4 separate regions of the Homo sapiens genome follow, and all the other regions are linked to region 4. The links come from fine-mapping of genetic effects on gene expression. A gene starts in region 4. Each other region holds a variant in brackets. All regions are shown on one strand. Distances are between the middles of the regions. Region 1 overlaps BMP1 (bone morphogenetic protein 1). Region 2 overlaps PIWIL2 (piwi like RNA-mediated gene silencing 2). Region 3 overlaps PHYHIP (phytanoyl-CoA 2-hydroxylase interacting protein). Region 4 holds the start of BMP1 (bone morphogenetic protein 1).

Evidence for each region.
Region 1: its variant is fine-mapped to the expression of BMP1 in whole blood (TOPMed, PIP 0.96).
Region 2: its variant is fine-mapped to the expression of BMP1 in whole blood (INTERVAL, PIP above 0.99).
Region 3: its variant is fine-mapped to the expression of BMP1 in cerebellar hemisphere (GTEx, PIP above 0.99).

The regions. Positions count from the first base shown.
Region 1 is chr8:22,206,846-22,213,003 of GRCh38, reverse strand. BMP1 (bone morphogenetic protein 1) reads right to left here. Exons shown (of 20, transcript NM_006129.5): 17 at 6,023-6,150; 18 at 5,488-5,701; 19 at 3,309-3,559; 20 at 678-1,410. The coding sequence ends at 1,276. Among named protein-coding and RNA genes, the nearest start is that of PHYHIP, 22 kb to the left of the region's middle. RefSeq lists enhancers at 767-1,458, 1,459-2,149, 2,150-2,841. The variant A/C (reference allele first, on the strand shown) is at 2,743.
Region 2 is chr8:22,285,860-22,290,859 of GRCh38, reverse strand. It overlaps PIWIL2 (piwi like RNA-mediated gene silencing 2), which reads right to left. Exons shown (of 23, transcript NM_018068.5): 7 at 3,215-3,332; 8 at 2,194-2,318; 9 at 933-1,013; 10 at 514-627. Among named protein-coding and RNA genes, the nearest start is that of PIWIL2, 13 kb to the right of the region's middle. The variant C/T (reference allele first, on the strand shown) is at 2,645.
Region 3 is chr8:22,225,816-22,231,973 of GRCh38, reverse strand. It overlaps PHYHIP (phytanoyl-CoA 2-hydroxylase interacting protein), which reads left to right. Exons shown (of 5, transcript NM_014759.5): 1 at 1-178; 2 at 3,588-3,781; 3 at 4,949-5,123. The coding sequence starts at 3,617. Among named protein-coding and RNA genes, the nearest start is that of PHYHIP, 3.2 kb to the left of the region's middle. RefSeq lists enhancers at 1-245, 1,171-1,340, 3,445-4,152, 3,402-4,601, 4,153-4,860. The variant A/G (reference allele first, on the strand shown) is at 3,323.
Region 4 is chr8:22,162,971-22,168,956 of GRCh38, reverse strand. It overlaps BMP1 (bone morphogenetic protein 1), which reads right to left and starts at 3,585. Exons shown (of 20, transcript NM_006129.5): 1 at 3,404-3,585. The coding sequence starts at 3,551. SFTPC (surfactant protein C) reads right to left here. Exons shown (of 6, transcript NM_001317778.2): 3 at 5,755-5,877; 4 at 5,411-5,521; 5 at 4,898-5,056; 6 at 4,478-4,691. The coding sequence ends at 4,916. RefSeq lists a silencer at 3,290-4,329.

The DNA of each region.
Region 1 (6,158 bases), 44 kb before region 4:
GGAACTGAGATGTGGTTTCTCCTCCTGGCCTCTGGGAGGTACAGGTCTGGGATGGGGAAGCGGGGTGTGCGATGGCAGGAAGAAGGAGGCCAGACAAGACATAGATTTGGGTCACCTGGGAAGTGGGGCCAGAGCTGGGATGTTTGCTCAGTGGCCGCTGAGTTCTGGCTCTTGTCTCCACGAAGACAGGGGGATCCATGGGGACCAGCACTCAGCATCTGACCGGCAGGAAGACAGGCACCAGGGGCCAACTGGACCTGTCCCAGCCGATGTGGGTTTTCTGGCCCCCGTGTGCTCACCTAGGTGGACACCCTTGCAGCCCACCTACTCCTTCCCTAGATGCAGAGACAGAAAACCCAGACGGACAGACACCCCTGACCCCTTTCACATCCTTCTTCCCTCCCCACCAAACAGCCACTTTATGGAATGTTCCACCCCTCCCCTCATGTGGGAGGACCGCGAGCAGTGCGTGTGGTGTGTGTGCGCGCTGTGATGGGTGCCTGCGAGTATCTGTGCCTGAGTGTGAAATTACACCCTTGGCAGCCTGGGATCAGGGGAGGGAAGGGCAGCCCGTGATGCCAGGTGCCCTGGCTACGTGCCAGCCTCCACAGCAAGCCCATACATCTGGAACATGATGGCCCCGCCCCCATGGCCCAGACAGCATCTGGCACAGGATATTGGCTGTAACACTTTCGGTTTATTGGCTGCGGTGCCCTGGTGTGGCTGACCGGCCACTGGGCCTGAGAGAAGCCCTGTCTTGTTTCTCCATCCCCTCCCCATCGGCTCCCCACGGTGGCTCCTGGGGGACATGCACAGACACTTGTGCCCCAGGAAACTGGGGTGGTGGAATGGGGGCTCAAAATAAAACCAAATCGAGGCTGGAGCAGGGGTGGGAAATGAACATTACAATGAAAATAATGCCCCCGGTGATACACAATACAGCGTGTAGAGACACAGGGATGGCGATGGGGTCCTGCTGACATTCCCTCTTGCCACCAGGCAGGGCCCCCTAAGAGAGGAATGATGACTTCGAAATGTCTTGTGGAAGCTCTGCTCCCTGGCCCCAGCCCCTTGCTGGTGGGGGTTTGTGGGGAAGTGGCTTATGCCGGAGTCCAGTTCCCCCACCTCCTATGGACAGTCTCACCAGGCCATTGGCCCTGCAGGTCCTGGGGCCTGGGGGAGAGGGATGGTGCGTTGCCTTCCGCCCACCCCCACTATCCAGTCTAGGCGACCAAGGGCAGCAGGCTCCAGTCCCCGCCCCTGCTCAGGCAGTGGTCACTTCCTGCTGTGGAGTGTGTCCTGGAACTTGGTGCTGGTGTATCGCAGGTGGAAACCTTTTTTGGTGATGGTGTCATCCGAGTGGAACTTCACCAGGACAGAATCTCCCGCCGAGTACACCTCCTCAGGAGGCTGGCAGAGAAAAGAGATGGGGTAAGGTGGAGGAAGAGGGGCTGGGGCTGCTGTCCTGCCTCCCCAAGATCCCCAGCTTTGAAGGGCAGGAGGCTCCCAGGCAGCCACCAGATTCTCCCCGCCCCTTGAAGCATAGGGCTTCTTGCTGGTTTAATGAGGAACCTGGGGAGGGGAGGAGGCGTGGGCCGAAGAGAACTAAGTTCCCGTAAACCCAGCTCTGCTATAACTACTAAATGAGTTGTGTAGTCTCAGGCAAGCCACCTCCCATCTCTGGGCCTCACTTCCCTCAGCCACAAACAGGAGCAAAAGGTCTCTGCTCTCCATGCCTAGGAGGGGTGCTGGGGAAAAACAAAGGACTGCACCGATGTCAAAGTATTTTGCAAAGGGAGGGAGTTCTTTGAATGGCATCACTTCCTGCTGTCCCAGTGGACTCTTAGGGAAGACGGCACAGCCACTTCTCTGCTGGAGTGTGGAGGAAGTTTTGGAGAGAAGCACAGTGCCCCCCAGGCCTGGACTCTGCCATCCCTACCCCTTGCCCCGCCTCTCCTCTGGCACCTGGCCAAGGTCTGCTCCCGAGCCCTTCTTAGGTGCCTCCTGCAAGCCTACTGAGTGAGGTCAGCCCTCAGAGCATCGGACGTCAACGCCCTGGCCTTCCAGGCACAGAAGAAATCATTTCTGAGAACCTTGAGGACATTCCGAGTAGTTGTGCCAGGAGGCCCTGATCCTTCCCCAAGTTCCTTCCGGTCAACTCAGCCTGGGGGAGGTCTCTGGAAGAAGACACCTGGGGACATCCGATTTGGTGTGTGATTCAGAAGAAAGAGCAAAGAGGGGAGGGGACACTAGCCTGGCAGCCAGGGGACACCAGGGCAGCCAAGCTGCTTCAGGCTCCACCTTGTCCCAGCCCCTGCCAGCCACACGAGGGCTGAAGCTCTGCTCCTGGGGGAGGTTCAGCCAATGCTGGGTCCAGCAGCTGCTGCAGCTTCCAGGAGCTTTAACCCTTCCTGGGGCACCCAGGCTGCCTGGGATACAGCCATGAGATAGGCAAGGGGACAGGGAGGTGACAGGAGGGCCAGTGTATTTGAAAGTGCATGCAAGTGGGTGTGCCAGTGTGTGTGTATGTGTGTGAGAGAGAGAGAGAGAGAGAGAGGGAAAGAGAGAGAGATGGGTAGGAAGACAGTCTGTCTCTTTGAAGCCCTCAGGAAAGGACAAAAAAAAAAAAAAAAAAAGAAGAAGAGGCAGCTGCAAGCTCTTACAGGGAGGAAAATAAATCCTCCCCACGAGGCTAGCCCATGTCCTTAGGGAAAAGCCCATCAAGCCTACTTTTGCTCATTG[A/C]CTCTTAACGTGCCATTTTATGGACCAAGAAGCAGTGCCCAGGGGCCACTGGGACAGCAGCAGCAAGAGCTTTGGGACAAGCTGGCCTTTCATCAGGAGGAGAAACTGGTAGAGGAAATGACAAGAGTGTTTATGCCTCCGGCAAAAGGACTGGTGAGGGCCACTCCGCTCAGGCGCCCTGTCCCCGGCTCTGGTGCCAACCTCTGCCCCCCATTCCAGGCCCTGGTGGGCTGCCTTGGGGGAGGGGTAAGGAAAGGAGGGACAGAGGAAGCTCCATCCGCTCCAGGCCGTGGCCAACTGGTTCTGAGGCAGGCCTGGGTCAGAGGCCGCAGGAACTTCTAGGTTGCCCAGAAAGGACTTGGTTTCCTACGTCGGGGATGGGGCAGTGTCTCTGAGTAGCCCCAACAAGGCTGGGCTTCTGGGCTCCCACACAGGGCCACACGCGTGCTGCACTCAACTTCCGGGGCCTGTGTGGGCGCTAGGTCTTGGAGACTGGGCTGAGAAGGGTGGAGGACAGTGTGGGGCGTGGGGCATGGGGCCAGGAGGGCGAGGGGTGGGGGCCTCACCCCTGAGCCACAGTAGCGCCCCAGCCTGGGGGCTGTGCTGTCGTAGCCGTCGAAGAGCTCCATGTAGTCATAGCCGCAGTCGGTCTCCTCCTCCACCTCAAAGGTCTGGAACACGAGCTCCACGCCGTAGCCTTCCTCGGCCACAATGACCCACTCACAGTCCACACCCCCAGGGTAGTTGTTGTCGCCAAACTGGGCGTGGGAGTAAAGGTCCTTGGTCTTCACGTCTGCCCGTACCTGGCCCCCGCACTCTGTAGGGGACAAGAGGGGCCAACCAGCCCTGAGCACCGCAGGTGCCAGGCCCCATGGCACACTATGCCATGGCGTGCCCTCACGGCAGGATGGAGGCCTGGGTGAAGGCCACGAGGCCAGTGATGGGTGGGTGGGGGCCTGGCCCAGAACATTGCTGTGCTGCCCCATCTCTAAATAGAGGGACCTTGGCCCTAGGCTGAGGGGAACAGGCAGTGAGGCTCACCGAGAGGAAGACAGCATGGAGCGGTGGCACGAGGCACCACACACTTTGTCTAAAGAGGGCATTGCTCATTTTCTCCAGCTGATGGCTGTCATGGAAGAATGTGGGCCCAGTGTCGCCACAGCTTCCATTTTCAAGAGAGAAGCCGTACATCTGGGTTTTATGTGAAAACTCCTAACTTTTAAGTGTTGGCTCACATTTTTAAAAAAAACACAGTGTGGGCCAAACATAGCAGGTCTGAGGGCCAGATGGAGTTCCGGGCCTCCGGTTTGTGACCCTGTGCTGGGAAGGGCAGAGGACAGTGCATGGGGCCACCCTCCTCCCCAGGCCCTCTGGCTTTTGTGCACCTGGCACTCAGGTCTCGCTAGAGGAGGTGGGGAGAGGGAAGGACGGGGCTGGGTCAGGGACTGAGTTGAAGGGGAAGAGGGGAGGCTGTGGACCATCAGCTCTGGGGATGCCCTGACAGGTGGCTTAGGACCCAGGAGGAGACTGCAAAGCTCCCTCGTGGCATCCTTGGTCTGGCACTCAAGGCATCCCCCTGGACTCCAGCCTTTCTCTGCAGCCACATCATTCCCACAACCTGCTGTCCTCACACACCCATTGCTTCGGCCAAAGTAAATGACCTGCTGTCACCTGGGCACACTCTGGGCTGGGCTGGGGTTGTGTCTCTGCCTGGGCACCTCCCCCTGCCTCGAATGCCTCTACCAACACATGCCCAGTTAGGCCGGGGTGCCTTTCTTCCTGCCTGGCTCCCGCTTGGGCTCATGCTGTCACGGGCGGTGCCTGCCTTGTCTCTCTCCTGGACTGCGAGTTCCTAGTATGGGGTGGGGGGCAGGAGTGAAGGGCTCATGCCTGATTCAGGCCACGTGCCCCTTAGTCCTCTCGCAGAGCGGAGCTCAGTTCATGGCTGCTAAATAAACAAGCAAGTGAAAGCCGAGCAAGCCCCTCAAGGGCTGGGATCTTTGCTTGGTCTGTTTCTGGGACCTGCATTTAGGATGCCGCCTCATCCATGTTACATGTCAATAAGTATCAGGAGAATGGGCTGGGCACGGTGGCTCACGCCTGTAATCTCAGCACTTTGGGAGGCCAAGGCGGGCGGATCACCTGAGGTCAGGAGTTTGAGACTGGCCTGGCCAACATGGCGAAACCCTGTCTCTACTAAAAATACAAAAATTAGCTGGGCATGGTGGCAGGCTCCTGTAATCCCAGCTACACGGGAGGCTGAGGCAGGGGAATCGCTTGAACCCAGGAAGTGGAGGTTGCAGTGAACCAAGATCGAACCACTGCACTCCAGCCTGGGCGACAGAGCAAGACTCCATCTCAAAAAATAAAAAATAAATAAAAATAAAAATAAAAAAATAAATATCAGAGAATGAATAGAGTATATTTCAGGGTTGGTGTGTGGCTGGGCTGCTGCGGTGGCCCGCGTACGCTCAGGGGGACCTCTGGGGGCTTTCCTCTCTGTCCCTGAGTTCCCTCACCTCTCCTGTCCATCGTCATCACTGCCATCCTAACCCCTAACCACACCCTCCTATCCCTGCCCCCCAGGCCTGGTTCTCAGGACACAATGTTTGCATCACCCACAACCCTGGCCCTGGGTCGCAGGGCTCAGTCCCTCTGTACCTTCATACCCGCATTGAAACCCCCGACTCTACCCCAGTCTTGGAGACCAGGCTCAGTGAACACTCCCACAACCGGGGACAGTACCTGTGGCGTGGGAGGCCTGGAAGCCCTTTCGCTGGACCGAGTTATCTGAGTAGAAGCGCAGGAACATGCGGCTGCCTGTGGCCAGGACGGGCTCGGGCTTCTTGCTCCCACAGAAGCGGCCGAGGACGGGGGCCTTGGCGTCTCGCCCGTCGAACACCTCTAGGTGGTCGTAGGCACACTCAGGCTGGGACTCGATGTCCATCTCCATGAAGGTCTAGGGGGATGAGGAAGGAGCACAGATTAAAAATTTGGCTGGAAGGCAGGTGGGGCAAGGATGAGGGCCCCAAACCTAGGCCTCACAGATACCCATGGGAGCAGCCACAGCTGGGGATGACAGTGAAGGAGGGCCCAGGAATAGGGCGAAGGCAGGGACGCCCCTAATTTATACTGGGAAAGGGGCCTCTGTCCAGGCCAGACTTGGGGTCTCCTGGGGATGGCAGACCTCTGGGCTCAGCCTGCAGCCTGTGTGGCTCTGGGCAGTGCCTCTGACCGGGGGCAGCCACACCGCATAAGGAGTGGGGAGGGGACCCCTTACCAGCTTGACCCGGTGCCCGGGGGTGCTGGAGATGGCCCACGTGCACTCCTTCTTGCTGGGATACTTGTCAGGCCAGTTGGGGCTGGTGATGGTACCACTGGTGGATGTCACCTTGTGGTCACAGCCGGCTGCAGGG
Region 2 (5,000 bases), 120 kb before region 4:
TCCTTCTCAAAGCACAGCAGATGTCTATTCAGATGCTTATCTCAGGAGGACTAGAGACGAGGGCACATATATTCAGTTCAGTTATTCTACAACTAAAAATCTAAACAGGGCTGGGTGCCATGACTCATGCCTATAATCTCAACACCTTGAGAGGCTGAGGTAGGAGGATCCCTTGAAGCCAGGAAACATAGCAGGCTGGGAAACATAGCAAGACCCTATCTCTACAAAAAAAAAAAAAAAAAAAAATTAAAAATTGGCTGGGCATGGTAGCACACCCGTAGTCCTGGCTACTCAGAAGGCTGAGGTGGTAGGATCACTTGAACCCAGGAGTTCAGGGTTACAGCGAGCTATGATCAAACCACTGTACTCCAGCCAGGGTGACAAAACAAGACCCTGTCTCTGGGGGAAAAAACAAACAAACAGAACAATGTCTAATGTGTGTTATTACCAGCTGTTACTGAACTTTTCAGAAAATCATCAGCATGTTAAAGATAGACCCCACCATTCACTCACATGACATCCAGCACACAGTCATTCCGAATGACCTTATGGGAGACATCAGCTAGCAGGAAGAGCCCTCCATCTGTCCTTCGGATGCTAGCTGCATAGCCTGGCCAGATCTGCAATCTGGAGAGAGAGGTGGTCTCAACTGTAGGATTTTCAAAGAACACATATACTTCCATGCCCCCATGTGAACAAAACATTGAGGTGATACTGCCCTTCCCTAATAGTAATGAGAAAGCCTCAAGAAACTAAGTTAATTGACATTATTGCAAACTTACTGAAAAACCAAACTAAGGAAGAGATTTAATTGATAAACTGTATTCACTACCATAAACTACTGCTGACATTATAGTACTAAATACAATGGTTGTAATGGAAACTTTCTTTCCAGAACATTCAAAAGTGAGGGAAGGGAAAAAAGTACCAACCTGTGTTGCTGTAGTACCATAGCACTTGTAGGGTCATAAAAGTTTCTCCCCACAAGCTTCATATCTAAAAGTTTCATTACCCTGAAATAAAAAGCAAGTATGAGTTTTCTAATAGAAGAGTAATAAAATTATGTTCCATTATTCTTAGCTACATTTGCCTTTGGAAGTCTGAACGGTTAGAAATGTTTGTGCTCTTTGCAGAAGACAGCTTTTATATTGAGAACAATCTTGTTAAAAGAAAACCAAAAACTGCCAAAGCATTTGACTGAAAAAGCAAAGCAAAATGACAGCAGTCTTTTCCACTTACTAGCTGACCAAACACTGAGTTGGTTTCCAAGGTTTTATTACGTTACTTTTCACCACTAACTACGAAGAATGCAAGACAGCCCATTGCTAAGTGTGTGAATAACAGTGTGGCAAAGGGAGCTATGTTTACTCCTGGCAGTTCAACTTACTAGGTAGAAATTAGGTTCCATGGGCCGGGCGCGGTGGCTTACGCCTCTAATCCCAGCACTTTGGGAGGCTGAGGTGGACAGATCACGAGGTCAAAAGATCGAGACCATCCTGGCCAACAAGATGAAACATCATCTCTATTAAAAATACAAAAATTAGCCAGACGTGGCAGCGCATGCCTGTAATCCCAGCTACTCAGGAGACTGAGGCAGGACAATCACTTGAACCAGGGAGTCGGAGGTTGCAGTGAGCCGGGATTGCGCCACTGCACTACAGCCTGGCGACAGAGCGAGACTCCGTCTCTCAAAAAAAAAAAAAAAAAGAAAAAAGAAAAGAAAAGAAATTAGGTTGTGTTTCATTAAATAAGAGAATAGCGGCTGTATGAAAACTAGGATGTTTCAAAAGAAGTTAAACAATTATGAGCTGTCTGTAATCCAAAAATTCAAGACACTGAAAAATCCTTCCAGCAAATATTTTTACACACAACCTCTTTAAGTAGCCCCCTTGTTACCGTCACCATTAAATATGCACTATCAACAGCCGCTTTCAAAGTTCCTGAACACAACTGGAGGAACCCGTTCCCCTATCCAGCTACCTCCAAACCTAATTTCATATATTCAAATCTGGTCTACCACTTGTGAGATAATTTTTGAGTAAGTTAGCCTCAATACCATCCATTTATTCATTAAATGCTTCCAAACCCATCTAGAATATACTGTCACGTATTTCCATCCAAGTATCTTGAAGAACATTACTGTAAATACAAGACTGAAGTTACAGGACAATAGAACTTCAGCTGTTTTCTTACCGACGGAAAACAACATTGTAGAAGGGAATGCACAGGTCAGAGCAGGGCTCCAGGATCTTTGTCATCTGAATCTTAATGCTGATTTCAGCACTGTCTGTTTTCCTTTGACTTTTTAACTCAAGAACCTAACAAATAAATACACACAGGTGAAACAAAATGACAAAACTAAGAACTAATGACCAAGTCCTAATCTAATTCAACTGTGTTCTTAAGAACACTAAAGTATCTTAAAACATTTTTCTACTTTTCCCCTCACTTTGTTGCCCACACTAGCAAAAGCACAGCATGACAACTACGATTCAGAAAAATGATTTGGTAAGAGAATTCCAACCAAGTTTACATTTGCAATTTTTTTTTTTTTTTTTTTTGGAGACAGAGTCTCGCTCTGTCACCCAGGCTGGAGTGCAGTGGCGTGATCTCGGCTCACTGCAGGCTCCGCCTCCTGGGTTGA[C/T]GCCATTCTCCTGCCTCAGCCTCCTGAGTAGCTGGGACTACAGGCGCCTGCCACCATGCCCAGCTAATTTTTTTTATTTTTAGTAGAGACAGGGTTTCACCGTGTTAGCCAGGATGGTCTCAATCTCGTGACCTCGTGATCCACCTGACTTAGCCTCCCAAAGTACTAGGATTACAGGCGTGAGCCACCGCACCCGGCCTACATTTGCAATTTTAAGTTACTCTTTATCACTGAGGTCACAGACTTCCAACCATTCCTCTCATGTGAGAAGGTGCTTCTTGAGGAATTCAAACCTAAAATGTGCTGTGATGTCCTGCAGAAATCTGTCTTCCCCTCTATGAACAGAAAAGCACAACTCGAACATACAGGAATTCTATGGTTTCCTACCCCTCAAAACACCAGTCCTGGGCCAGGTGAAGTGGCTCACACGCCTGTAGTCCCAGGGCTTTGGGAATTCGAGACCAGTCTGGGCAACATAGCAAGACCCAATCTCTTAAAAGCAAAACCAAACAAAAAACGCCAGAGCACTCTTAGGGTTCATCTCAAAGTCCATTTCCTGTTTGGTCTCACTTGTTGAAGCTTAACAGGCAGATAGAGAATAGATCCATCAAACGCAGTGACGTTGCCGGTGACAGCTTGATGGTCCTTCAACATGCCGAACCTCATGCTTTTGCACTCCACATTGGGGCTGGAAAATAATGAAGAGGATTTTCCTTTAACTTGACTCAAACTGCAATCTTTACCAGAGCTGTGCAACAGGTGCTAGTTACCCAGTAACTGCTGCTCCATCTAGCGGGCATATTAAAAATTATCTATCTGCCTAGAACTTTGACTCAAGAAGACCTGCTCGCAGCTGAAACATCAGAAACCATAGGTCATAAAAAAATAAAAACCACCAAATCCTACCACCAAAGGACACCTGCCTTAGCACGTCAGTGTATATTCTTTCATATATACACATTTGTTTTTGAGACGGAGTCTCGCTCTGCCGCCCAGGCTGGAGTGCAGTGAAGCCATCTCAGCTCACTGCAATCTCCACCTCCCAAGTTCAAGTGACTCTCCCTTTGTTTCCTTAACATTTGTCACTCCATTTTAAGAGGAAGACTTCTCCCCATCTCCCTTTTTTTTTTTGAGATAGGGTCTTCCTTTGTCACCCAGGCTGAAGTACACTGGCATGATCATAGCTCACTGCCATCTCAAACTCCTGGGCTCAAGTGATCCTTCTGCCTCAGTCCCCCAAGTAACTGGGACTATAAGGGTACCACCACACCTGACTAAAAAAAAATTTTTTTTTGCCCTGGCTCGGTGGCTCATGCCTGTAATCCCAGCACTTTGGGAGGCCGAGGTGGGTGATCACTTGAGGCCAGGAGTTCAAGATCACTCTGGCCATCACGGTGAAACCCTGTTCTACTAAAAATACAAAAAAATTAGTGGGGTGTGGTGGCATGTGGTTGTAATCCCAGTTACTCGGGAGGCTGAGGCATGAGAATCATTTCAGCCTGGGAGATGGAGGTAGCACTGAGGCAAGACTGTGCCACTGCACTCCGGCCTGCGCAACAGAGTGAGACTCTGTCTCAAAATAAATAAATAAATAAAATTTTTTGTTGTTGTTACCTAAGACAGTCTGGAACTCCTAGCCTCAAGCAACTCTCCCTCCTCGGCCTCCCTAAGTGCTGGGATTACAGACGTGAGCCACTGCATGCAGCCCTCTCCCCTCTGTTTAATGCTCACCTCTTTGCTGTATGTTTCACAACAAGCCTGTTTCCTGGGATCCAATTTCCCCCACTTTTCTGGCTACTTCCCTCTACCTGTTGTATGTGCTCAGCTCCGCTTTCTTACCTCATAGAAACTATTACAGCAATCCTGTTGCCTTCTATAATTATTCCATTTCTCATTCCTCTTATAAACTTTTTAAATGAGTGGCCAAGTCAGTGGCTACTTCTCATGGCCTATGCCCTCCTTTGTGCTTTTCATCTTTCCTTTTTTTTCTCTACAACTGTAACAAAACTGCTAGAAGATCACAACACCCTCAACAAGCAAATTCAGTTGCTTTTTTTCCTGTGGCCAAAGTCAACCACCTTCTCATTACCTTCATTCAAAAGAGTCCTTCCTTTGGTCTTTATAACATACCTTCAGAATATTTTCTCCCTAACTGTTCCTTTCTCCTCTCTTTCACTCCACTTCTTCCTCTTGTGTCATCAACTAGCAGCTGCCCTTCACAAATTCAGCCTTCCTAGTATAGCTACCTTTAGAAATAGTATAGAAGTTTCTGGCCAGGCATGGTGGCTCATGCCGGTAATCCCAGCACTTTGGGAGGCCGAGGCAGGTGGATTACTTGAGGTCAGGAGTTTGAGAC
Region 3 (6,158 bases), 63 kb before region 4:
AGGAGCTGGCTGCGGGGCATGGAAGCAGCCTCCTTGGCAGCCGGGAGAGGAGCAAGCGCACGCCACTGCCCGTGACCCAGGCGTCCGGCTGCTGTCCCCTGCCGGGGAGCTCATCCACGCAGAGGTCTCTCCCTGTCCTCCCTGCGAGCTTTTCCTCTGCAGAGCCCAGTGGAGCCAGGTGAGTACCCTTCCTCCCTGGAACCTGCTGCTGTTGATCCTGAGTAGCCGGGATCTGGGGGCTCTAGGGTCCTGCCACCACCCAGGGTGCCCACCTGGACTGCCAGGCCTGACGACCTTGTCCCCTCTCCCCCCCCCCGGCCAGGCCTTTGGCAAAGTGGTTAATGGCTGAATCCAGTCTCTGGGGCACCACAGTTAGTCACCCCGTGACCGTTCTGCTGCAGTCAGCGATGCCAACAGGGACAGCAGGGTGGGGGAAGCATTCCCTGTGGCAGGGTGGCTGTTTGAATGGGCATGGGGAAGGGGCACCGGTGTGCGCGGCGTGTGTGTGTGCGCGCTCGCGAGTTGGCTGGAGGCTTGCTGGCGCAGATAGGTCCGTCTGTCCGCAGTCATGCTCATGTGTGGGTTTTGAATGGTGTGAGGCATGTCTAGAAACATATCTTTCTGGCACACGTGAGGTACATGTGTGTGGGGGACTTATTTGAGTAGCCTGTGGGTGTGCGTGGGTGGGGACACTATGAGGCAGTATATTTAGGGGTAACCATGTCCCTTTTCATGTGTGTGGGAGTGTATGCAGACAGGGGCTTTCTATATGGGGAGGTGAGACCCAGAGCAGGATGGAGTGGGTAAAGAGAAGAAGGGGCAGAAACCATTGTCTGTGGGCAGAGCCACGTAGGTGCACAAACCTGTTGGCATGAAGGCTCAGGGCTGGCAGAGTGTGGCCAGAGGCAAACACATTTTCAAAGTCTGTCTTTGAGCCTGGAGATGATTCGAGAGAGAATACCAGACTTCGGGCGGGGGCTGCTGTGTGTATGAACACACATGTGTGTGCCGGCAGGCGTGTGGGTTGCGTGCCTTCTTGTGGAGGTGGCACACATGCATGTTGGTGCCTGTGGCATCCTCTTTTCCCCACATATGGCTTGTGAGGCGGTGTGCGTGGACGTGTGTGTGCGTGAGCCTGTGGACATGAACATGTCTGGGTGTGCATGGAGGTGACAGATTGAAGAGGGAAAACTGTGGGGCATTCTTAGAATGTGGAAGGTGGCAGCAGGCACCTGAATGTGGAGATGGGTGTGTGGGAGTGAGGACATCTGCGGAGGTGTGGGACGCGGGTGGGTGGGCACTCTTGGCGCATGTGTGTATGCGCGTGCGTGCCTGCCTGTGTGTGGGTGTGTACATGCCTGTCTTGGGGTGGATCCACACAGGAGTGTGGGTGTTTCTCGGGTGTTGCCTCAACCTGTCCCTCACACCCTGCCCTTCCCCAGTCTTCTGGGTGTAGAGAACTTGGGTTCACACCCACCCCTCTGTCCACCCCAGCTCACTCACTGCCACCCTCCCAAGCTAGCGGGGGGATGTCATCTCAGCTTTCCCAGAACCGTAGGGAGGGAGGGACAAGCAGACACCCAGGTCCTGGAGACCCCTACCGCCAAACACAGCTGCCCCTATTTCTAGGAGGACTCCAAGGAGAGGCAGGAATAGGTGCCTACTCATGGGACGAGTGTGGGCTGCCTCCGAGCGTGTGGGTGGGTGCCGCTCAGGGCCTCTTGGGTAGGAGTGTGTCTGTGTTCGTGTGTGTGTGTGCGTGTGTGTGTGTGAGGGGCACATGTGTGTCTCCCTGGGAGCTTCTCACCAGGTTCCCAAGAGATGGTAACTCCCCACTGCTCCACACCTGTCCCCATGAATTACAAACTGGTTTATTATGGTAGGGTTGTTTCCAGACACTCAATCCCATCTGCCTGATTTTGGGGTGGGCCTGGTAGCACCGCCATGCTTATTTACCATAGGATTCCCCATGCACAAAGCCACCGGCATTTGGCTGTGGGGTGGGAGGCTAAGATGAAACAGGACTTGAGTGACACCTGGAGCAGGTAAGGGCCATCACCTTTAGCCTTCACCCTGTACTTGCCATCCAGGCAACTCACAGGTTAATACAGAGGTGCCAGGCTCTGGAGCAAGCTTAATTGACAGGAAGGTGTGGGCTGGATCCTCTGGAAGCTATAAATAAAAGTACCTGCTTTTGCAGGCACAAGATGCCCTCACCACTAGCTCCTGGGCAAGGGGAGGAGAAAAAGAGGGGAGAAAGAAGAGAAGGAGGTGACATTTAGAAAAATGAGGGGTGCCAGGAACTGGGCTGGAGGAAGGGATTGGAAAGCAGGAGACCAAATGCCCCTGGAGAATGCCCCACCCACGTCTGCTGTCCCCTCCCAGACGCTGTCACTCCCCTTCCCTTTGCTCTTCCCCATCCCGGAGCTAGGCCAGCCAGGCCAGAGTCATGGCCAGAGTCAGCTCTTCCCAGCTAAAGCACACATGAGAGTGACCGTGATGAGGTCCTCTCATACCTGGACGAGCAGCAGACATAAGGGGAGAACCAAAGGAGTAAGACAGGGAGGGGAGAGAAAATGCAGTTGCTTGAAAGGAAACGATGGAAGGAGGAAAAATGCCAGGTGGAAACACCATGGGCACCCATGCATGCACACACGCCACACATGTGCCCCTCCACCCCCACACATGAGGGGACACTATCTTAGCTTAGTGATCAAGAGCTTGGGTGCCGGAGTTCAAATCATTTGCTCTCTGCGTGGCCTTGGGCATGTTAGTACCTCCCCAACCTCAGTCGCCTCATCTGTAAAATGGAGATAATGATAGTGTGTGCCTACTTCCAAGGTTGCATGAGACGTCTGTGAAATTATGAGCACATGGCCGGCCCCTAATAGATGTTAATGTTAAAAGTCATGATTGAAAGGAGTCAAGAGAAGATTGGCCGAAAGAGAAAGAGGGATCATCAAAAAAAGTTATGGGTGGAAAAAGAGCTTGAAGCCGGCTGTGCCGCGTACCCCTCCCACCACGAATGTGTCCACATGCACCAACGTGGCACTTGTCCTTCCAGCCATGTACCGCGGCAACGCTTGCTGACCCCAGTGAGGAGAGAGGCCTGAATCCGAGGGCCCTGGCACCTGTGAGCTCTTGGCTGTCACCTGCCCCAAGCCTCGCACCTCCGCTCCACAGCAGGTGCTTCCTGCGTTTCCTCCGCCTCTCACCCGTCCTCTCCACCCCCACCCCTTTCTCTTTTCACGCCTGCTGGCTGAGGGCCCCCTCCCTCCTCGGCTCCATCTGCTGCAAATCTGTCCCCGCCCGGCTTTGCAGC[A/G]TTCCCACTGCCTCTGCCACCTGTCAGGTGCCGTCTGCTCTGCAGACCCCTCCGAGGAGAGCAAAGAGCCCCCCGGGCAGGCACCCCTTTCCACCCTCCATCATCCTTCTCCAGCCTCCCCTGTACAGTCTTTCCCATCTGGTTCATGAGGCATGTGGATTCCAGGGGTCCTTGAGGTTCCGCCTCGAAAGGGATATTGGGAGGAGGACATTCCAGAAAGCTCGCCGGGGTCAAGGGATGTACTGACCCTTTCCCTCCTCCTCAGTCCCCACAGGAGACAACCCTGACGGGAGCATGGAGCTGCTGTCCACGCCCCACAGCATTGAGATCAACAACATCACCTGCGACTCCTTCCGCATCTCCTGGGCCATGGAGGACAGTGACCTGGAGAGGGTCACCCATTACTTCATTGACCTTAACAAGAAGGAGAATAAGAATTCCAACAAGTTCAAGCACCGGGTGAGTAGAAGGTGTCCTGGGAGCCCCTCCCCAGCTTCTGTTCCTGAAGGAGGCCGGATAAGGGAACACCTGGAAGTGATGGCTTGGAGTCAGAGGCTGGTTAAAATCCACACTCTTCTTCCTGTGTCATTTTGGGAAAGTTACTTGACCTCTCTGAGCCTGAGCTCCTTCCCTGGTAAAGAGGGAATAACAATGCCAAGCCTCACGGGGTCGTGGAGAGGATGCAGTGAGTCATGTTTGCGTGGTGCTTGGCCCGGCGCCTAGCACAGAGGGAGCGTTGTTATCAGCGCCACAACTGAGACTTCAGGCAGGGGCAGAGAGCCCGGGTAGGGTGGGGCCGCAGGCTTCGCCTATGGGGATGACGTCTCAAGTCTCGACAAAGCCCCGGCTCAGGGCACAGCCTCGCTGTTGGCTGGGTGGGCCACACGGGCCTCGGTCGGGGCGGAGCCCTTTTGCTGTGGCCTCAGTTCTCCCTCTCGGGCCCCTCACCTGCTGGCCTGCCATTTGCTTGACTTAGAAAAGGAATGGGAGAGAGTCCTCCGTGGGTGTGTCCTTTCCTGGGGTTAAAAGCCAGTGTGGGGGTGGGTGGGAGGAAGACCCCCATCCTCTCAAGCTGGCAGAGGCAGGGGGAGTGAGGCGGCCAGCTGGCTCCCAGGCCGACGGCACCGGCGTGGGTTACTCACCCGCTCTCTTTCTCTGGAACCGGCTCTCCCGATCTGGGTGTCTTTTGGCAGGCCAGTTGCCACGGTGACGTGAATGTTCAACACCACCCCCTTAACCCTCCCCCCCAAAGAATAAGGCATATTTTCCCTTCCTCCCTGGCTTCTCAGCATTTGCCGTTGCCGTGGAGACGGCACTGCAGTGTGCAGAGCTCTCAAAGTCTCCTTAAAAAATGAAGGCCTTGCCGTCCTCAACTTTGTGGCTTTTCCCCTCCGTTCCCAAGAGAACGGGGTGTCAGGGGGGTTCGAGGAGGGGCCAAGGCTGTGGAGTGTCTGGGTGGCCTTCCCAGGAAAATGGTGGCCAGGGTATGGAGCCATTGGATCCTCAAGATTGGTCCTGCTCAGGAGAAACAGGGCCATCTGGGGAGTGGGGATTCTGGGGTGATGCCCAGATTGGGCATGAACCCCTGTTTGACGCCTGGCTCTCTGTTTGTACCCTGTTTCTCAGGACGTCCCCACCAAGCTCGTGGCCAAGGCAGTGCCGCTGCCCATGACGGTGAGAGGCCACTGGTTCCTGAGCCCCCGCACGGAGTACAGTGTGGCCGTGCAGACGGCAGTGAAGCAGAGCGATGGGGAGTACCTGGTGTCCGGCTGGAGCGAGACGGTGGAGTTCTGCACTGGGGGTGAGGCCCTGCTATCACACCCCTGTCCTGCTGCTTGGCACGTCGGGCTTTGCTGTGGTCAAGGCGGGTCTTCCTCGTAGTCCAGCAAACACTGATGAACACCTTCTGTCCACCAGGCAGCGTGCTTGGGCCACAGGGGAGATGCACGGGCATGACACCCTCCCTGCCTCCAGGAGCCCAACCTTTCTCTTCTCTCACTGGAGGCAAATGCGAACCCCACTAATCACGCTGGCAAGACCACTTCCATTAAGAAAGGGAGTTACTTTTCGGGCTTGGTACCAGATCACAGGCATCTTTTTAAACCTTGTGGTCAAAGGTGCATGACGTAAAATTTGCCGTCTCGACCATTTTGAAGTGTACAGTTCAGTGGTATTAAGTATATTCACATTGTTGTACAGCCAGTCTCCAGAACCTTTCTTCCTGGAAAACCAAAACTCTATACCCATTAAATAACCGCCCCCCATTTCCCTCTGCTAGCTACCATTCTACTTTCTGTTTCTATGAATATGACTCCTCTAGGTGTCTCATATCAGTACAATTGTATAGGATTTGTCTTTTTGTGACTGGAATATACCAAAATTTCCTTCCTTTTTGAAACTGGATAGTATTTCATTGTATGGATAGACCACATTTTGCTTAATCAATTATTTGTCAATGTGCACTTGGTGAGGCAATCACATTTCACTTGTTCTGAGCCTTCACGTAGCCTGGGAAAATGGCCCCTGGTCAATGGCCCCGCAAACTCTCTTAGCAGAACTTAACTTGTAGACTCCATCACAAACAAACAGTGGGCCTATGTGTGCTTGGTCCCTCACGACTCAGGGTCTGCCCCCACAAGATTACATTCTTTTGGTGTTCACGGTGAGAGCTGCTCCAGATCTCTCTGTCACACAGAAGAGACACGGAACATTCTCAGCCCCGGGCCTCTGAGGCTGCTGGCTCTATCCTTTGCCAAGATTTATGCCCCAAGTCTCCTTGAGCTGCTGTTGTCTTTTGAGTGGTGCTTTTTCTTTTTTTTCTCCTTCTGCCTTTTTT
Region 4 (5,986 bases):
GGCTTCAAGTGATCCTCCCACTTTAGCCTCCCAAAGTGGATTACAGGCATGAGCCACTGCCCCCTGCCTAGACTTCTTAAGAATCCCTTCTTCCTGGGGAACCCCACTGCCCCGCCCTGCCCCATGTAGGGCCCAGGGAGAGTACAAATTTTTTCCTCACCCCTTGCGGCACTGAAATAAGAAGGTGACTCAGGGGCAGGGGCCTGGGTGGGTGGGGTGACTCAGCTGTCTAGAGGGGGAATGTGGTCTGGTGAGAGGAGAGATTACTTCTCGACCTCAGAGGGTGTACCCTAATCCTCTATGGCTCTCTGATGTCCAAACCTTGGCCAGGCGTCCCCCTGGGTGGGATGGGGATGTGGGCTGGTAAGTGCTGCCCCTCCCGCTCCTGCAGACTCTGGGCTGTCAGATGAGGTTGAGGTGGTAGCAGGGGCCTCACTGGCACAGGGTCACTACCCAGCTCTGGGTGTGACATGCTTCTAGCCCCACCCCTGTGGGGTCAGGCCCCTGGGCTTCTCTGATTTTGGGATCAACTGTGTCCCAATTCCTGCCTCCAAGGTCTCTCCGGGGGGGTGTTGGCTAGTCACCTGGGGCAGCCAAACAGTGCTGGGAATCTTGCAGAAGGACCCCCTTCATGGTTTGGCTGATTTCCTGACATACAGGAAATCAGGCCTGCCTCAAAATCTTCCTGGGCAAGGGCTAGTGAGGGCTTGGTGGCACCAGCTCTGAGCACACAAACAGACCAGCCTGCCTTCCTGCCCAACGTCCTGGTCTCACCCAGAAGGTCCAGGAACCTCTCCAGGGTATCAAGGATATTAATTTTGCCCTCACTACAACGGCAACCATAACTCGGCCAGTAATGGTCCAACGAAGGGGCGTGGCTACCCTCAGAGCAACTGGAAAGGTCACAGGTAAGCTGTGGGAGTCAAAGGAGCTTTCAGTTCCAGCCCTTGAAAAGAAGCAGAGACAGCATGCCTGCCATCATCACCTCCAGCATCTGGAGGTCAGGGCTGCAGAGGATACAGGAAGCAAAGCCAGGCAGGAGAAGGAAACGTGGAGAACAGAGCTGAGGGACCTGTGGCTGGAAGGCAGTGGCACAGGGGTGTGGGTGTGAGTACTTAGGAATGCCCATGTGAGTTTCCTCTGGAGGTGGGCAGCAGATCTCAAGCATCAGTCACACCCGAGAGGGAGGCCTGATCTGACCCAAGGCCTGGCCTTGTCAGGCCCGGGGGCCCTCTCAGCCGCCCCCAGCCCTGGCCCAGCGCCCCACCAGCCTCACTTCACCCAGTTGGAGTGCTTTCTCCAGAGCCCTTACTTGAAGCTCCAACTCAGCCAGCCCCACCCTAGCATGAAACCTGAGACTGGGGGGAGAGCCCTCAGCCTCTTGCTGCTCTGAAAATCACTCCCATTTCCAACAAGAAGGGAAAGACATCAGAATGGCTTCCCACCCATTCTTTAAGGCCAGGCCCCAGCCCCACCTCCTCCATGAAGACCCCCCCAGACCTTCTCAGCCTGCTGTGATCACTTTTCTCTGCCACCACCAGGCTGCAGAGGGGCAGGAAACTCCCTGAGTCTTTGGCATCCTACCCTCCAATGTGGCACTCAGTGTGGCTTGGTTTGTGCTATTGGTTATGTCTGTAGGTGTCTTGGGTCCCTACTGGACTGTAAGCTCCTTGAAGGCAGGGTCCTAGCTTGTACGTCTCAGTACCTCCCACAACATCCATTCCAGGCCCTAGCACATATTAGGTATTGATGGATTGATGGATAAGAGGCACAAGGAGACACCAGCAATCCCACACCTCTCAAAAAAATGAAGTGACAGTCTGAGGCACAGAAAACAGGGAGTAGGGAGCCCACATTTATTTAGCGCTGACTGTGTGTTAAGCACTATTAAGTGTTTTATGTATGTTTTCATATTTAACCCTTACCACCAACTCTATGGGAAGATGCATGATCAGTTCCATTTTACAGGTGTGAAAGTGGCAGTTCAGACATGATCATTACCATTCTGAGGTGGTACAGCTATAATGAGTAGCAGGGTCAGGATTGAAAGCTAGATGTGCCTGCCTTCAAAGTCCATGCGCAGTCCACTCTGCCCTGTACCCACTCCCAGCCCCCAGCGAGAAAAATGACAGCAAATGTCCTGGTTTACCCGCAGCCCAGCAGGTGTAGAGGGGTAAGGGCTGAGGGATTTGCCCTGATTTCCTCCATTGGATGGTCTCTTATTCCTGCCTGTGGGCCACCCTCCCAGGAGAGTCCCTGAACAGGGTCTCCAGAGCCAGGACTAGAGCAACCTGCCCCTCCGCCCCTGGTGCCCCACACAGGCAGTCCAGTTCTAGCAACTATGCCACTTCCCCTGGCTCTGGCTATTTGGAGATGAGCTGAAGTCAGAGAGGCAGGAAGTCAAGGAAAAGTTCTGATATCTTGTCCCTGTGTGTCCCCAAACAGCCTGCCCAGGGTCATCCAATCAGGCAAATGGCCCGAGTGCCTGGCCATCTGGTCACTCCAGGGGCAGGACCCTTCTGGGCTCAGCAGGAGTGATGGGGTTACATAGAGTCTTCAGAGACAAAGAACACACACACATACAGGCAAACACACACTCCGGGGTCCTGACCTCAGCTAATTAGCCTCTGGTGTCTCGGGGGTGACAGAGCTGATATACAATATCTGGGTTCTCTTTGTATTTTCCCTCTTTCCACCCCAACTTGGCCTTGGCGGGGGTCTCTGGGCACATAGGGACAAAGTTAAGTCCCCCTTCTGGGTTGGCTTCTCTGACTTTGACAGCTGTCTCCTAAGTCCCAGAAAGCTTCAGCTACTGGTTAAACTACGGGATACCCAGAGAGCACGATCTCAGGGAATCCCTGGAAAAACTTTCTTCTTCCACTTGGGCTGGGTGGTGGCTGGGGGACCTGCTCCTTGGAGACTCAGGCCTCCCAGATCCAAGCCAGACAGATGTGCAGCCCCAGGGCAGCCCAGACAGGCTGGAAAACACCCAGCTCCTGGAGCAGGAGAGATGGGGGAGAAGGGGAAAGAACACACACACACACACACACACACACACACACACACACACACACGCACGCACAGGAGTTTGGCCAGAAAAGTTTCCTACAGAAGGAAAAGCCGCCTTGCCCGCCGGTTTTCCCGGGACGCAAGGAGACTTCCTCTGGAATCCTCTGGGAAGATGAGAGGCAGCGGCAGCAGCTTCCACCAACAGCGGCAAAACTTCAGTCCGAAAAGTCCCCCAAATCCCCCTCCCTCTCCCCCTCGTTCTTTTGTTCCCCACTGCATTGCCAACCAGGCAGCTCCCGGCTTCCCACACTGGACTGTCCTCCCCCAACCCCAAGCCCGAACCCGCCCGCGCCTCCCCGCCTGGCCCGTCGCCGGGGGGCCGGGGGGCGCTCACCCGCCTTGCAGGGGTCTTTGTAGTTGAGGGGCTCCGAGTCGTCCTCCTCCGCCAGGTCATAGGTGTAGTCGGCCAAGTCCAGCGGCCGGCCGGGACGCGGGAGCAGCAGCAGCCCGAGCAGCAGCGGCAGGCGGGCCACGCCGGGCATGCTGGCGGGGCGGCGGCGAGGGAAGCGGCGCACTGGAGGCCAGGGGAGGGCGTCCTCTCGCCCGCTTGCTTGCTCGATCGCGACCGCGACCGCTCCCGCCCTCGCTCCCCGACCTCTTCCCCTTCCCTCTGCTCGCCTCCCTCCTTCCTGTCTCCCGCCCCCCGCTCGGTCCGCGGCTCCGCGCTCGTCCTCGGGCTCCAGCCGTCTCCCTCTCCCTTTCCTTCTTTTTCTCTCTTTCTTTCTCTCCCTCCCTCCCTCCCTCCGACTCCCCCCCCCCTTTTTAGGGAAATGAGCTCGCTGGAGGGCGGGTTTTCGCCCGAGCTCTGCCCCCCTCGGGGCCGGGACAGTGCTCGGCCGGGCCGGGCCGCGCGCCAGCCGGGGCGGGGAAGGCGGAGAGCCGCGCGCCCGGGGAGGGGGCTCGGGCCGCCCGGGCCGCGGGCCGCGGGCCGCGAGGCCGGGGCTGGAGCTCGGGCCCCGGGGTGCCGGGAGGGCTGTCCCTCCTGAAGTGCCCTCTAGCGGCGGCCTCCCCCGCGGGCGCGCGGCCGAGCCCCCGCCCCGCCGCGGGACACGCTGTCAGGTCCTCGCGCCGCCCCTGCCCCGCGCCCCCGCCTCGGGTCGGTCTCTCCGCCCGCGTCTCCCTATCTCCCCTTCTTGGACCCTCGCTCTCTCGCGTCTCGCTCTCTGCGCTCTGTCTCTCTCGCTGTCTTGGTGTCTCTCCCTCCTCCGGAGACGCCGCTGGAGGGCGCCGAAAGCCCGTGGATGGCTCCCTGCGAGCCCCTCTCCCCCGCCGAGGTGGACCCAGTGCCCCAGCGCCCTGGGACAGAGGGCGAATGGCAAACCCCACTTTGCTCTCCCAAGGCCCTTCCCTTCTTGGCCGGCCCCCGCCAGGGCAGGACTGCGCCCTGCAGGAAGACAGAAGCAGACCCTTTGCTTTTCAATCAGGCTGCTTTATTCTGTTGTGGCAGGAGTTCCCGGGCCCCTGGGCGCCACCTCTGCCCACTCCCATCCTCTCCCCAAGCTCCCATTTCTCCAGGGCTTGTCCCTGCGGTGTGGGCAGAAGCAGCTTCTTGCCCGTCTGCAAAAGCTGCAAAAGACCCTTTGCCCGGGGCGTTTCCTTTCCCGTTGGGGCTTCCACTGACCCTGTGAAGCAAAGGAATGTTGAGGATGGACAGAGAGAATCAGGGGAGTGGGAAGTACCGGTCTGTGAGCTTCCCCTCCCCCGAGTTGCCTGGATGACCCCGCTTCAGTGGACGCCCCAGCGCCTGGTCAGCGCGAGCGCTCCTCCACAGCCCGGGCAGGTGGCCCGAGCGCTCCTCCGCTGCTGATCAGGGGCCCTGGGATCACACCTGCTCACCGGAGGCGTCCTAGATGTAGTAGAGCGGCACCTCGCCACACAGGGTGCTCACGGCCATGCCCAGGAAGGCCGGGTCCCCTCCGGAGGGTGCTGAGCCTGCATCTCGCCCCTCTGCCTGGCCCAGCTTAGACGTAGGCACTGCGGGCTTGGCCTGCAGAGAGCATTCCATCTGGAATGTAGGAAGTGAGTTTCTATCCCATGTGCAGCCCTTATTGTGGGACTTCAGGTATATCAGGCAATCTCTCTGAGCCTCAGTTTTCTCATCAGTAAAGAGGGGCTGTGCTAGAGTCAGAAGCCACCAGGTAGTGAGTGGACTCAGCTGAGCCCAGCAGCTTGGCAGTGGGGTGGGAAGGAAAGGAGTCGTGCAGGGGAATAGGAGAGGGGCAGTCAGCTGGCAGCCAATGAGGAACAGTGCTTTACAGGTGACAAATAGCCACCATTCGGACACTCCTCCCAGCAGCCCTGGGAGGGAGACAGCCCACTCTTTTCACCCACACACACACACCTGGAAGTTGTGGACTTTTCTAGTGAGAGCCTCAAGACTGGGGATGCTCTCTGGAGCTATCTTCATGATGTAGCAGCAGGTGCCAGGGGCTGGCTTGTAGGCGATCAGCAGCTAGGCACAGAATGCTGGAGATCATTCGGGGGTCCCTGCCCTGCTCTCTCCCTGACCCAGGTCCTTAGCCACCTCCCTCTAGGTTGGGCACGGGAGTCATACTAGAATCTGGGGCTCAGGCAAAAAAGGTCTGGAGGAGAGGGAGAGATGGATGTGGATGAAGTGGCCCAGCTGGGTGGCTCTAGCAGAGCCTTGTCATTGGTCCCAGGGTCAGGAGGTCTGGGCATACCCACCTGCTGGTAGTCATACACCACGAGGCCAGTGGAGCCGATGGAGAAGGTGGCAGTGGTAACCAGGTGCTCACTCAGGGCCAGGCGTTGCTGGGCTTCCGGCGCCCCAATGCTCATCTCCAGAACCTGGGGAAAGGGCATGGAGCCACCTGGTCTTCCCCTTTCCTACTCAGCCAGTGGTACCCATCCCCATACTCAGGCCTCTGTACTCAAATGCGCTTCCCTCTTTCCCAAG